3 linked regions of the Homo sapiens genome follow. The protein of the gene in region 1 purifies or fractionates together with the protein of each later gene. This does not show direct contact. Each region holds a gene or a part of one and is shown in the gene's direction. Other genes may lie near its edges.

The links.
Region 2: the proteins of TSEN15 (region 1) and CLP1 purify together in Homo sapiens (affinity purification with mass spectrometry; 5 studies listed by BioGRID and IntAct, with this or other methods). This does not show direct contact.
Region 3: the proteins of TSEN15 (region 1) and TSEN2 purify together in Homo sapiens (affinity purification with mass spectrometry; 5 studies listed by BioGRID and IntAct, with this or other methods). This does not show direct contact.

Annotation. Positions count from the first base shown.
Region 1 is NC_000001.11:184,068,683-184,072,433, forward strand, and holds part of TSEN15 (tRNA-splicing endonuclease subunit Sen15), read left to right. Parts: intron 1-1,933; exon of another isoform or gene 1,934-2,050; intron 2,051-3,474; coding exon 3,475-3,616; coding exon of another isoform or gene 3,617-3,628; intron 3,629-3,751. UniProt on the Homo sapiens protein: Non-catalytic subunit of the tRNA-splicing endonuclease complex, a complex responsible for identification and cleavage of the splice sites in pre-tRNA. It cleaves pre-tRNA at the 5' and 3' splice sites to release the intron.
Region 2 is NC_000011.10:57,655,891-57,659,641, forward strand, and holds the start of CLP1 (polyribonucleotide 5'-hydroxyl-kinase Clp1), read left to right. Parts: upstream 1-1,871; 5' UTR 1,872-1,970; intron 1,971-3,564; 5' UTR 3,565-3,586; coding exon 3,587-3,751. UniProt on the Homo sapiens protein: Polynucleotide kinase that can phosphorylate the 5'-hydroxyl groups of double-stranded RNA (dsRNA), single-stranded RNA (ssRNA), double-stranded DNA (dsDNA) and double-stranded DNA:RNA hybrids. dsRNA is phosphorylated more efficiently than dsDNA, and the RNA component of a DNA:RNA hybrid is phosphorylated more efficiently than the DNA component.
Region 3 is NC_000003.12:12,482,506-12,486,256, forward strand, and holds the start of TSEN2 (tRNA-splicing endonuclease subunit Sen2), read left to right. Parts: upstream 1-1,974; 5' UTR 1,975-2,375; exon of another isoform or gene 2,376-2,686; intron 2,687-3,751.

The DNA of each region.
Region 1 (3,751 bases):
TTCTTTGGGACTGAGCCTGTGGATGAATAAGGCTTCTTTGGTGCCTCTGACACCAACTTAATTTTGCATTATGTTTCAGAGTTGCATTATGGCATGTCATTCCATTATATCATAATGAGGCAAATCAAGGAATTATTCCCTTTTACTAATAAGGCTATAGCATATATTATTTGGCCACATTGAAGAGGATAGGAGATACTTTCTATGGGTTGAAATTAATACTACTTTTAACCCATGATACATTCTATTTCAATAGCATTTGAAGTTAAAAGTAATGCGGTCTTCAACTTCTTGTCCTCTGTGTAAATCTCCAGAGATTACTTAGTATCTGTTTCAGAATCATTACAGAAAAATCAATGCTAAGATTTATGGAAAGCATTTAAATAGCTTGGACTAAAGGTATTAGCCAAATAGTGTTAACTGTGTATTTGCTTCAGGCTTGTTTTCAAGTTAGCTATATGAAGCTCTGGAATCACTTTTTTTCAGTACACAGAGCTCCTCTATGAACAGTTATGAGAAATAAAAACCTGTTGTGAGCATCAAATTTTGTTGCTGTTATTAAATAGCTATTATTATTGATACATATTTTTCTTTAGGTGGGATTTTTCCCTTTAGATATAACTGAGTTTAAAACTTGAAACTGTTAGTATTAATACATAGGTTATATTTTTCATAGGTTGATTTCTATCCAATATGAACTATAAAGAATTTTATCGTTTATTGTTGTAGATTTGTGTGATGAAACATACAATATTTCCAGTATCTTCACAATATTTTTCCAAAGAACTGAGCTATTAAAATTTATACATATAAGGAAACATTCTGTCATTTCTAAAGTGAGATTTCAAACCATAAGCTTGTTAGAAATTAAGTGAGATTATAGTATTCTGGTGATACTTAAATGTTCTTGGGATCTTTACAATCATATGTGGTTTTTTAAGAACTTAAGAATCTTTTGTTACTGCTATTATTAATAGATTGGGAAAATATAATCTGTTGACTAAAAGGCAAAATAAACATTTTTAAGATTTTATGCAGTATCCTATAATGGAAACAAACAAGAAAGGTCTTGTTCTTGTTTGTTGAGGAAAAGATGATGGCTTTGCTTTAAACATACTTGAAAAATCGACTAGAAGAGATCCTGAACAAGAAACTGTAAGACTTCTGGAATGTACCTTGAGTAACAGAGGCAGATAAACTATTTTATTCTGTTACTAGTGAGAAGATTCACTGGTAATTCACAATCACCGCCCCCTCCAACCAAATACCATAAACAAGGCCTCAGAAATGGGAACTTCCATTTCATTTTTGACAGTGATTTCTCTCAACTCTGAAAACAAAACCCCTTTTACAACTCTGAGTTAGTTTTCAAATGTTAGGGTTTCCTGCATGGGTATTTGGGGTAAGTATGAAAATGTTTTGCTGCTTAAATCAAAGAACTCTGGAAACAGATATAAATTGAGAATGGAAAAAGAGTAGTGAATAAGATGGAAATTTCTATTCTAAATTTCACTATATGGGCTACAATTCCCATATAGTTTTCCTTAGTGAACACCACCCCCCAACACACACATACAAACACACCTTCTGATTTAAATAACATTATATCTTCAGAAATGGAAAATGTGTTAAAGTTGTGTTAACAGGCTTCCTTCTTGTCTGTGTCCCATTCTCATCACAGTCTACCAGTTAGGGATGTTTAGAGAAATTTATCTTGTGGCATTGAAGTGGCTTTATGTGCATTATATATTGGGTTTTATGTATATTGCATACTGTGAAGTAATCATGATACATGCTGACAACAAAAGATGTAGATAAGTTAAAATTTTAGTTGATCCATTGTCTGTTTCTTCTTTGCCATCTTTGTAGAAAAAAATTAATTCAAGATGGACAGCCTATAAAAATGTATCTTTTTCTATTATTATTAATTTAGATATTGGCGTGCCACTTTTGAAGAAGGAAAATACTTAGCTACATTAAAAGATTTGCATTGAAGAAGCAATTGTGATATGCTGCCTTTTATCACAGTGTGACTTCCCATCAGTGCTGAGTAATGAAGTTTCTGATTAATATCTATCGTTGCTTTATCAGAATATCTTTCTCTAAAGTAAATCATTCTTGTGAATAAGAATCTAGCTAGTTGTAATGCAGTTCAGCATAGGTGGAAATAATTTTTTAAGGACTAAGTCAATTTCTGGGATTCAGACTGTTTCAGAAAAGAAACATTTTCTGTATTTCCACTAATGGCACAGTGTACCTTAGTATGTTTGGGTTAGTATTCAGTTTTAGCAATAATCATGGAGGCAGGGGTATCTATAAATATTATATCCCAATTTGCAAGGTAGCAAAGTTGTATATATACTACATAATATGACCACTTGACAGTTTATGAAGTCTTTTCATATATGCCATTTAATTGATTCATATAATAATCTTATGTGTAAACATAAAGGTGTACTACTATCTTCATTTCAAGTATCCTTGAAAAGACTTTCTCCATTGAATTGCCTTTGTACCTTTGTCAAAAATCAACTGACCAGCCTTATAGCACGTTAAGAAGTAACTTATATGATGTTATTAACACAAAGGATGGGGGAAGGAATGAAGCTATATTGGAGTAAACAATGACACCAGACAGTTATGTGAAGAAATGAAGAATACCAGGAATATTAAATATGTGAATGTAAAAGACCCTAATATATTTTCCTTTCTCCTCTTAACTTTATAAAAAGAAAATTATTTAAAGTAATAATTACAACACTATATTACTGGGTTTAAATATATAAACATATATGACAATAATAGCATAAAGGTGGAGGAAAGGAATAAAGCTCTATTGGAGCAATTTCTATATTTTTTAGAATCAAGTTAGTATTAAGCTGAGAGAAATTGTGATAAACTAAGACGCAATAGTAATCTCTAGAGTCATCACTACGAAACTCAAGAAACTATAGTAAAAAAAAATACATTAATTAAAATGGTGTACTAGAAAATACCTATTTAATAGAAAAGAAGGTGATAAAGGAGGGTGAGAGGAAGTAAAAAGACATGTGATATATAGAAAACAAATAGCTAAATGGCAGGCATGAATCCAACCATACCAATGTTAATTTTAAATTTGAATAAACACTCAAAAGGGCAGAGATTGTCAGATTGGATATAAAAACAAGATCCAACTATATGCTATCTACAAAAGATACACTTCAGATTCAGAGACAACAATTTTGGAAAACTGTCAACTATTTCTATACCATTCTCTTTCCTTTCCTTCTGTGATTCCAATTATGTGTAATGTTGAACTTATTTGATACTATACCAGAAGACTCTGATGTTATTTTTTAAAATTATTTTTTCTCTTTTTACTTCAGTTTGGTTTCTTGTGACCTGTTTTCAAGTTTTCTAGTGCTTTCTTCTGTCACATCTCATCTAATTGAGTGACCGCAACTCCTAAGTATATTGTGACTTTATTTTCAGGATAAGGGAGATCTTGAAGGCATCTCGAAAGTTGCAAGGTGATCCAGATTTGCCGATGTCTTTTACTTTGGCCATAGTGGAGTCTGATTCTACAATAGTCTATTATAAACTTACTGATGGATTTATGCTGCCAGACCCTCAGGTCAGTTTTGAGGTAACTGACAGCAAGAAGTACAAAAAGAGGAAAATTATGACGTGATTTTAAGTGTGACTCAAGTCAGTCACAGAACTGCCACTTCCTTTGCCATAGGGAAAATTCAAGAAAAAAAGTCTTGAT
Region 2 (3,751 bases), on another chromosome or scaffold:
TCTCAGCTCACTGCAAGCTCCGCCTCCCGGGGTCAGGCCATTCTCCTGCCTCAGCCTCCCTAGTAGCTGGGACTACAGGCGCCTGCCACCACGCCCAGCTAATTTTTTTGTATTTTTAGTCGAGACGGGGTTTCACTATGTTAGCCAGGATGGTCTCGATCTCCTGACCTCGTGATCCACCCACCTCGGCCTCCCAAAGTGCTGGGATTACAGGCGTGAGCCACCACGCCCTGCCTTAAATGTGATTTTTTTTGTGAGACAGAGTCTCACTCTGTTGCCTAGGCTGGTGTGCAGTGGCGTGATCTCAGTTCACTGCAACCTCCGCCTCCCCGGTTCAAGCGATTCTCCTGCCTCAGCCTCCCAAGTAGCCGGGATTACAGGCGCCCGCCACCACGCCTAGCTAATTTTTGTATTTTTAGTATAGATGGGGTTTCACCATGTTGGTCAGGCTGGTCTCGAACTCCTGACCTCAGGTGATCCGCCCGTCTCGGCCTCCCAAAGTGCTGAGACTGCAGGCGTGAGCCACCGCGCCTGGCCTAAATGTTTACTATTATTATAACCGGACTCAGAAACTCTGGGTTTGAGTCCTAGCTCTACCAATGGCTGTTAATGTTTGGGCAAACCTCTGCACCTATCTGAGTCTCCTCCCCCATCTGAAATTGGATATAATAAAGCTGTCTTTACAGGGTGGCTGTGAAAGAAGATGCCTGAAAGGGATCTGAAAAATGTTAAGTATTGCACGAATGAATGATATTATAGCCCCTTCCGCCCCAGCCTATAATAAAAACGTAAAAGCTGATATCAGATTTTTTTCTATATTACAGGCATTGTACTTAGTACTTTACAGGCACATTCCTGCAATCGTCAAAACAACTTTAGGAGGTTGGGCACTGTTATTATCCCAACTTTGCAGACAAAAAACGATATCACGCTTGAGCCCAGGAGGTCGAGGCTGCAGTGAGCCATGTTCGCGGCACTGTACTCCAACCTGGGCGAGAGAGTGAGACCCTGTCTCAAAAACAAAAAGAAAAAAAAAAACGATCTCAGAGAGATGAAGCCTGTGATTTGCTCAAAGTCACACAGTAATGTAAGCAGTATAGCAAATAATATAAGATTCCAAAGCCCAAGGTAGTAAAAAGAGGATTATAGACGTGGTGGAACCTGTTGGCTGCGGGGCAAATGACTGACCTGTAACTGTCAGGGATTTATGGAGGGAAATGAGTGCCTAACAAAAATCCTCGTTTAGTGGGAGAGAGGTTGTTGGGTAATGACTGACTTGTAGCTGGAAGAAATCATCGGATTTTTATTCTTTTATTAAAGAAAAAAAATTTGAAATGCCTTCCATGTGCCAAGCACTGTGTCAGGTGGGAGATGACAGCTTGGTGAAACCTCTGTCAGGCTGTCTTCCTCCGCTTTCTCTATCCCTGGGTTTCCCCCTGCCTAAAAAGGATTTTGTGCTTCGTGGCTTGTCCAGGCAAGCAGGCCGTCGCGGGACCTAGACCGAGACAGTGAGTCTCTCTTTCTCCCGGGCCTCCCTTCTGTTTCCTGGGCTGCAGGGGAGCAGGAAATCTGGGGCGAGATTCCCGCCGCGGACGCGCACTGCCGAAGCCTGGTCCCTCGACCTGTCCCTGCCCAGCGCGGGGGCGCAACCGCCACGCCTCCTCACCCCTCCCTCCGGCTGCACGAATAATGACAACAGCCGCCCCTCCCACCTTTGGCGTCACGTTCAAAACAATCCTTTGACTACAACTCCCAGAAGGCCGAGCGGCTTAGCGAGTGCACCCGCTCTCGGCTGCTCCGGCAAACTACACATCCCAAAGGGCAGCGCGCGACCGCGTGTCCTTTCACAGCGCAAGTGCGGAACTGCGTTTGTTTCCGGCGTGGGTCCGGGCAAGAACCGCTTGTAGTTTGGTTTAAATTCTGCACGGGAGGACCTTCTGAGTTTACCTGTTGGGCTCCTGGCTGCGCAGGTGAGTTAAAAAAAGGGCAGGAACACAACTGTCACCTCCTTGGGGTCTGGGGACATTTTGGTGTCTGGGGAGATTTTGGTGTCTTGGGGAGATTTTGGTGTCTGGGAAGGTTGGGACAAATGCTGGAGCTAGAGCTGCAGTCCAGGATCAGAAATAATTCATATCGTTTCCTTGCCGTTTTCTAGTTTACGAAGTGCTTTTTTTTCCTCCCACAATTCCTGTAAACCCCAAGAACAACACTGTATTTGAGGAAGTGTAAGTGCTTCCAGTCGACAGCTTCAAAGGTTCAGAGAAGTTAAGTGATTGTCTAAAGACACTACTAGTAGTTACAGAGACGAGGATTAGGCTGTTTTCTGAGTTCAGACCCGGTGTGCTCTGCTTTGCATCCGTATTTCAGACGCCCTTTCCTGTTGACTAGGATGATTGGGGTCAGGGCATCTGTTACCTTCTCAAGTTTGGAGTTTACCAATAGAGTGATGGAGGGTGATATAATTAAATCTTCTGTCAGTCTGTAGGTATGGTTTTTCTCTGATGTCTGAGACATTAATTCACTCAATGTATTGAGGTGCCTACAGTCTGTCAAGCTGTATTCTAAGCAGTATATAGTATCAAACAAAAATGCCTAAGTCTTACATTTTGGGGTGGAGGAGGCGGGGAAGACACAATATATAGTGAGACCGATGGTGATAAGAAATATGGAGAGAATTAAAGCAAGGTAAGGGGAAACATTCATTGTATGTTTTTATTATTTATTTATTTATTTGTTTATTTTATTTTATTTTTTTTTGAGACAGAGCCTTGGTCTGTCACCCAGGCGGGAGTACAGTGGCATGATCTCGCCTCACTGCAACCCTGCAACCTCCACCTCCTGGGTTCAAGCGATTCTCCTGACTCAGTCTCCTGAGTAGCTGGGACTACAGGCGCCCACCATTATGCCTGGCTAATTTTTGTATTTTTTAGTAAATACTGAGATTTCACCATGTTGGCCAAGCTGGTCTTGAACTCCTGACCTCAGGTGATCCACCCACCTTGGCCTCCCAAAGTGCTGGGATTACAGGCGTGAGCCACCAGGCCTGGCCAATATTTGCATTTTTTCTACAGACGGGGTTTCACCATGTTGCCCAGGCTGGTCTTGTACTTCTGAGCTCAGGGGATCTGCCCAACTCAGCGCCCCAAAGTGCTGAAATTACAGGCCTAAGCCACTGTGCCTGGCCCATTGGATGATTTTTTTTTTTTTTTTTGAGATGGAGTCTTGCTCTGTTGCCCAGGCTAGCATGCAGTGGCACAATCTCGGGTCACTGCAGCCTCTGCCACCTGGGTTCAAGCGATTCTCCTGCCTTGGCCTCCCAAAGAGCTGGGATTACAGGCACCCTCCACCATGCCCGGCTAATTTTTTTTTTGTATGTTTAGTAGAGACAGGGTTTCACCATGTTGGCCAGGCTAGTCTTGAACTCCTGACCTCAAGTGATCCAGCCACCTCGGCTTCCCAAAGTGCTGGGATTACAGGCGTGAGCCACCATGCCTGGCCCCATTGGATGTTTTTGTAACAGAAGACTGACTTATAATTAGATCTGATATTTAATTTGTGTTCTAGGCACAGCAGCTACACAGAAGAGATGGGAGAAGAGGCTAATGATGACAAGAAGCCAACCACTAAATTTGAACTAGAGCGAGAAACAGAACTTCGCTTTGAGGTGGAGGCATCTCAGTCAGTTCAGTTGGAGTTGTTGACTGGCATGGCAGAGATCTTTGGCACAGAGCTGACCCGAAACAAGAAATTC
Region 3 (3,751 bases), on another chromosome or scaffold:
GAGAAAGTCTTGGGGAAAATTTCTTTCTTTTTTAAAATTTACAGATTTTTTTTCTTTTTTTAATTTCTTTTTTTATGTTTTTGGGAGGGGAATTTGAGATCCCATTATCAGCAAACCCCAAATCCTTCCACGAGCTGGGATGGGATTTAAGAGACCTGGCTCTAGTCTCAGCCCCACCTCAGACCTGCTCGGTTATCTCTGACAACTCACAGTGCCACTGGAACTGTTTTCTTATCAGTTAAATAAGGAAGTTTAACTGGACAACCTCTGAATCCCTTTCATTGTTAAAGCCCTCTAATTCTAAAACCAGTATTTCTTAAATTGGCATGTTCTGGTCGGATATTACAGCCTCTCTTCAGCTGTCTCTCCCCTGCCCAATCCATCCTGTTACCATATCCTGTGACTCTTGCCAATTTTCTCCCTTTCTTTTGCAACATTCTTACCACAAAGCTCTTTGATTTTGGTTTATCTAAAACCTGAACTCCCTAGCCTAGCAGTGAAGGTCCTTGCAGCAGAGGACCCACTGAATGCTGCGACATGATCTCACTCTACCAAGAGCAAGCCCACAGTGCAGTTCAAAAAGGGCCAGGCAGGATGCAGTGGCTCAAGCCTGTAATCCCAGCACTTTGGGAGGCCGAGGCGGGAGGATCGCTTGAGGTCAGGAGTTTGAGACCAGCCTGGCCAACGTGGTGAAACCCCGTTTCTACTAAAAATATAACAATCAGCCGGGCGTGGTGGCAGGCGCCTGTAATCCGAGCTACTCGGGAGGCTGAGGCAGGAGAATCACCTGAACCTGGGAGGCAGAGATTGCAGTGAGGTAAGTGAGCTGAGATGGTGCCACTGCATTCCAGCCTGGGCGACAGAGCCAGGCTCCGTCTCAAAAAATAAAAAGGGCCAGAAAAACAGGGACAACACATGCCATGCCAGACTACTGCAGAGCACAGAGGCAAGTCACCCAAGCAGGTCTGGGAAGGCAAGAAGTCTCCTGGAAGAGGTGATATTTGAGCTGAGACCTAAAGGCTGACCAGGAATTACTGCAGCTAACAGAGGGGAGGGAACATAGAGGCAACAGCATGCGTGAAGGAATGGAGGCAAGAACATTGGCAGAAGTCCAAAATTCAACATCCATCATCACATCTAGCACCATGAATCTCTCCAGCAGTATTTGCCACACTTCCTTGCCATCCTCCTTTGCCTCCTGCTTAGTCTGTGTGGTGGAACTCCTGTGATTCATATTTGGGAAAGTATATATTGGACTCCCCACAGGGCTCCTTTAAAATAACCAGGTCAGGAGAAACTTACACTTCCTATTGCACTCCAGTTTTGCTCATCTCCCGTAATTCTGATGGCCCATTTTTCAGTAAACTCAAGCTCAGAAAGGTTGTCAGTCATTCAAGCTCACGCAGCCAGTGAGGGGGGAAAATGGGGATGCAGAGCAGGTGGACCTGCCGCCTATTGTCCCTTAACTGCACAGGCAGTCTGGGCACACAGAGGCTTCTGGCCAGGTGTCTGCCAGAGAAAACGTCCTTGCAAGTTCCCCGCATGCTGCAGCGTACACAGGTGCGCTGCTGTGATCCTCTTTCTACATTGAGAAAGATGAGATCAGTTTCCTCAGGGCCATTTAATAAAGTCCTGTCGGTCGCCTCAAACATCCCATCCACCGAGGGCCGAAGATTCTAGGTCTCTCCCACCTCCCACGTGACTATGTGACATTTGACGGGTAACTGCATCTCATCTGTAAAATGCGTCTTGCAGGATCGTTCTGGCTTCCGTACAATCCTGCAGAGAGCAGCAAAGCGCGCACGCAGCCTCCGCCTCATACTCCGCAGTGGCAGAGCTGGCGCACAGAACACCCGCCAGCCGGCCGTGCGCAGGCGCACTCCGCCAAGTCCCGACGGGAGCTCTGCGGCTGCGCACTCGGCTGGCTTTGCGGCCGCACTGCTTGACGGCAGCGGTGTCCGCCCCACGGCCGGCGTTGCCGGGGTAACGGCGAGCGCGTGGGGCCAAGAAAGGTAAGGGCCCTGGGCGAGGAAAGCGCGGCCCTTTCCGAGTTTGGTGTTTTGCAGCGAAAGGAAATCTCGCTCTTCCGAAAGTCCTCCAGGGCGAGAGAGGAAAGGGCCTAGGTACTGTGCTGGGGTCGCACAGCCGGCCGAGACAGTGCCGGGACGGGGAGCCAGGCTTCCGAGTGCGCCCGGTCACTGACTCCTCCGCGCTTTCCTCGTGCGCCTGCAGCCCTTGGTTCTTGGAAACGCCGGCGCCTTGTTCAGGGCTGGTGGGGCTGGGGCGCAAGGTGCAGCTGACAATGCCCGAGAGGAGCCGCAGCCTCTGGTGGAGTTCGGTCGGGTGTGGGGGTAGTCAAGGAAAGAAGCAAAGGGGTAAGACAGGGAGTTAGGAATTGGCGGGGCCCCTAACGCTGTTGGGGTGCGCAGTTTATTTTATTTGCAGCTGTCGTCTGGTGAGCGCTTTCCACGTGGTAGGCCCCGAACGAAACGCCTTCTGCAAAATTATGCATTTAATCCTGACAACAACTTTCAAAGGCTGGTCATCTGTTTATATGGCTTATTCTCAGGTTCTAACTTGAAAGCTCCCCAGAGGCAGGATTGTTTACCTTGTGCCTTTCATCCTTGCCTCCCTAAGCCCAGGAGGTGCGCAGATGGAGCTTGAAGCGTGTTTTGGTTGGGAGAAGGTGAGATTTGCTGGGTAGGAGGTTTTTTAACCAGGTTTGTTTGGCACCTAGTCCAGGAAGGTTGGAAAATTAAATGGAGCCACCTCTCCCTTTTTTGTTTTTCTAATAGACATTTACCATCACCTAAGAGGTGTTAGCCTGTGTGCTCGAGGGAAGAATAAGAAACAGACTCTGCTTTTAATAGAAAGTAAGAATATGCAGCTCTGGAGTCAGGTTGCGCAGGTTGGGGAAATAAGAAGTAAAGATTTCTCAGGGGTGCGCCCGGCCCCTCCGAGTCACTTTCCACATCTGTACAATGGAAATAAAAATAGTCTTTACCTCCGGGGGCTACTGGGATTAAGTGAATTTGAATAGACCTTGCTGTTACCAGTGGTTAGCTATATGTTAAAATCAGCTGGGTCCACCCAGGAAATTCTGATGTAATTGATTGCAGGTGAGGCCTGGGCATGAGGAGTTAAGGGTAGGTAAGCTTGAGGGCCACTGTGTGATGTACCACTCCCAGGTTTAATTTTCTTAATCTGCATTTTTCAATCATCATTCTAAATAACCTGCAGTGACTCCAATTCCAAACCAACCTTTGCATCCCAAACCTCTTGACAACTGACCCAGTCTTTCCTATATGTTTTTGTGCACCTCAGGCACCGCTCTTCTTTCATATCTGTGGAATGAGGATAGTACAGTCAGCTCTCGCTATCAGGTTCCGAATCTGTGGATTCAACCAATGTTGCATCAAAAATATTTGGAAAAAGAAATTTAAAAATATATATATATAACAATTATTTAGTATTTACATTGTATTAGGTATTCTAAGTAATCTAGAGAAGACTTAAAGTAGATGGGAGGATGGGCATAAGTTACATGCAAATACTACATTTTATTTAAGGGACTTGAGCTGCGGATTTTGGTAGGGGGTGAGTCCTGGAACCAGTCCTTCTGTGGATACCAAGGGATGACTATAGTACCCACATGTGCAGCACATGCAGTGAGTGCCTCTGGCATCTGGTACCTACCTATGACAGTTTCCTCTTCTTATTTTACTCACATCCCACCTCTTACAGCATGCTG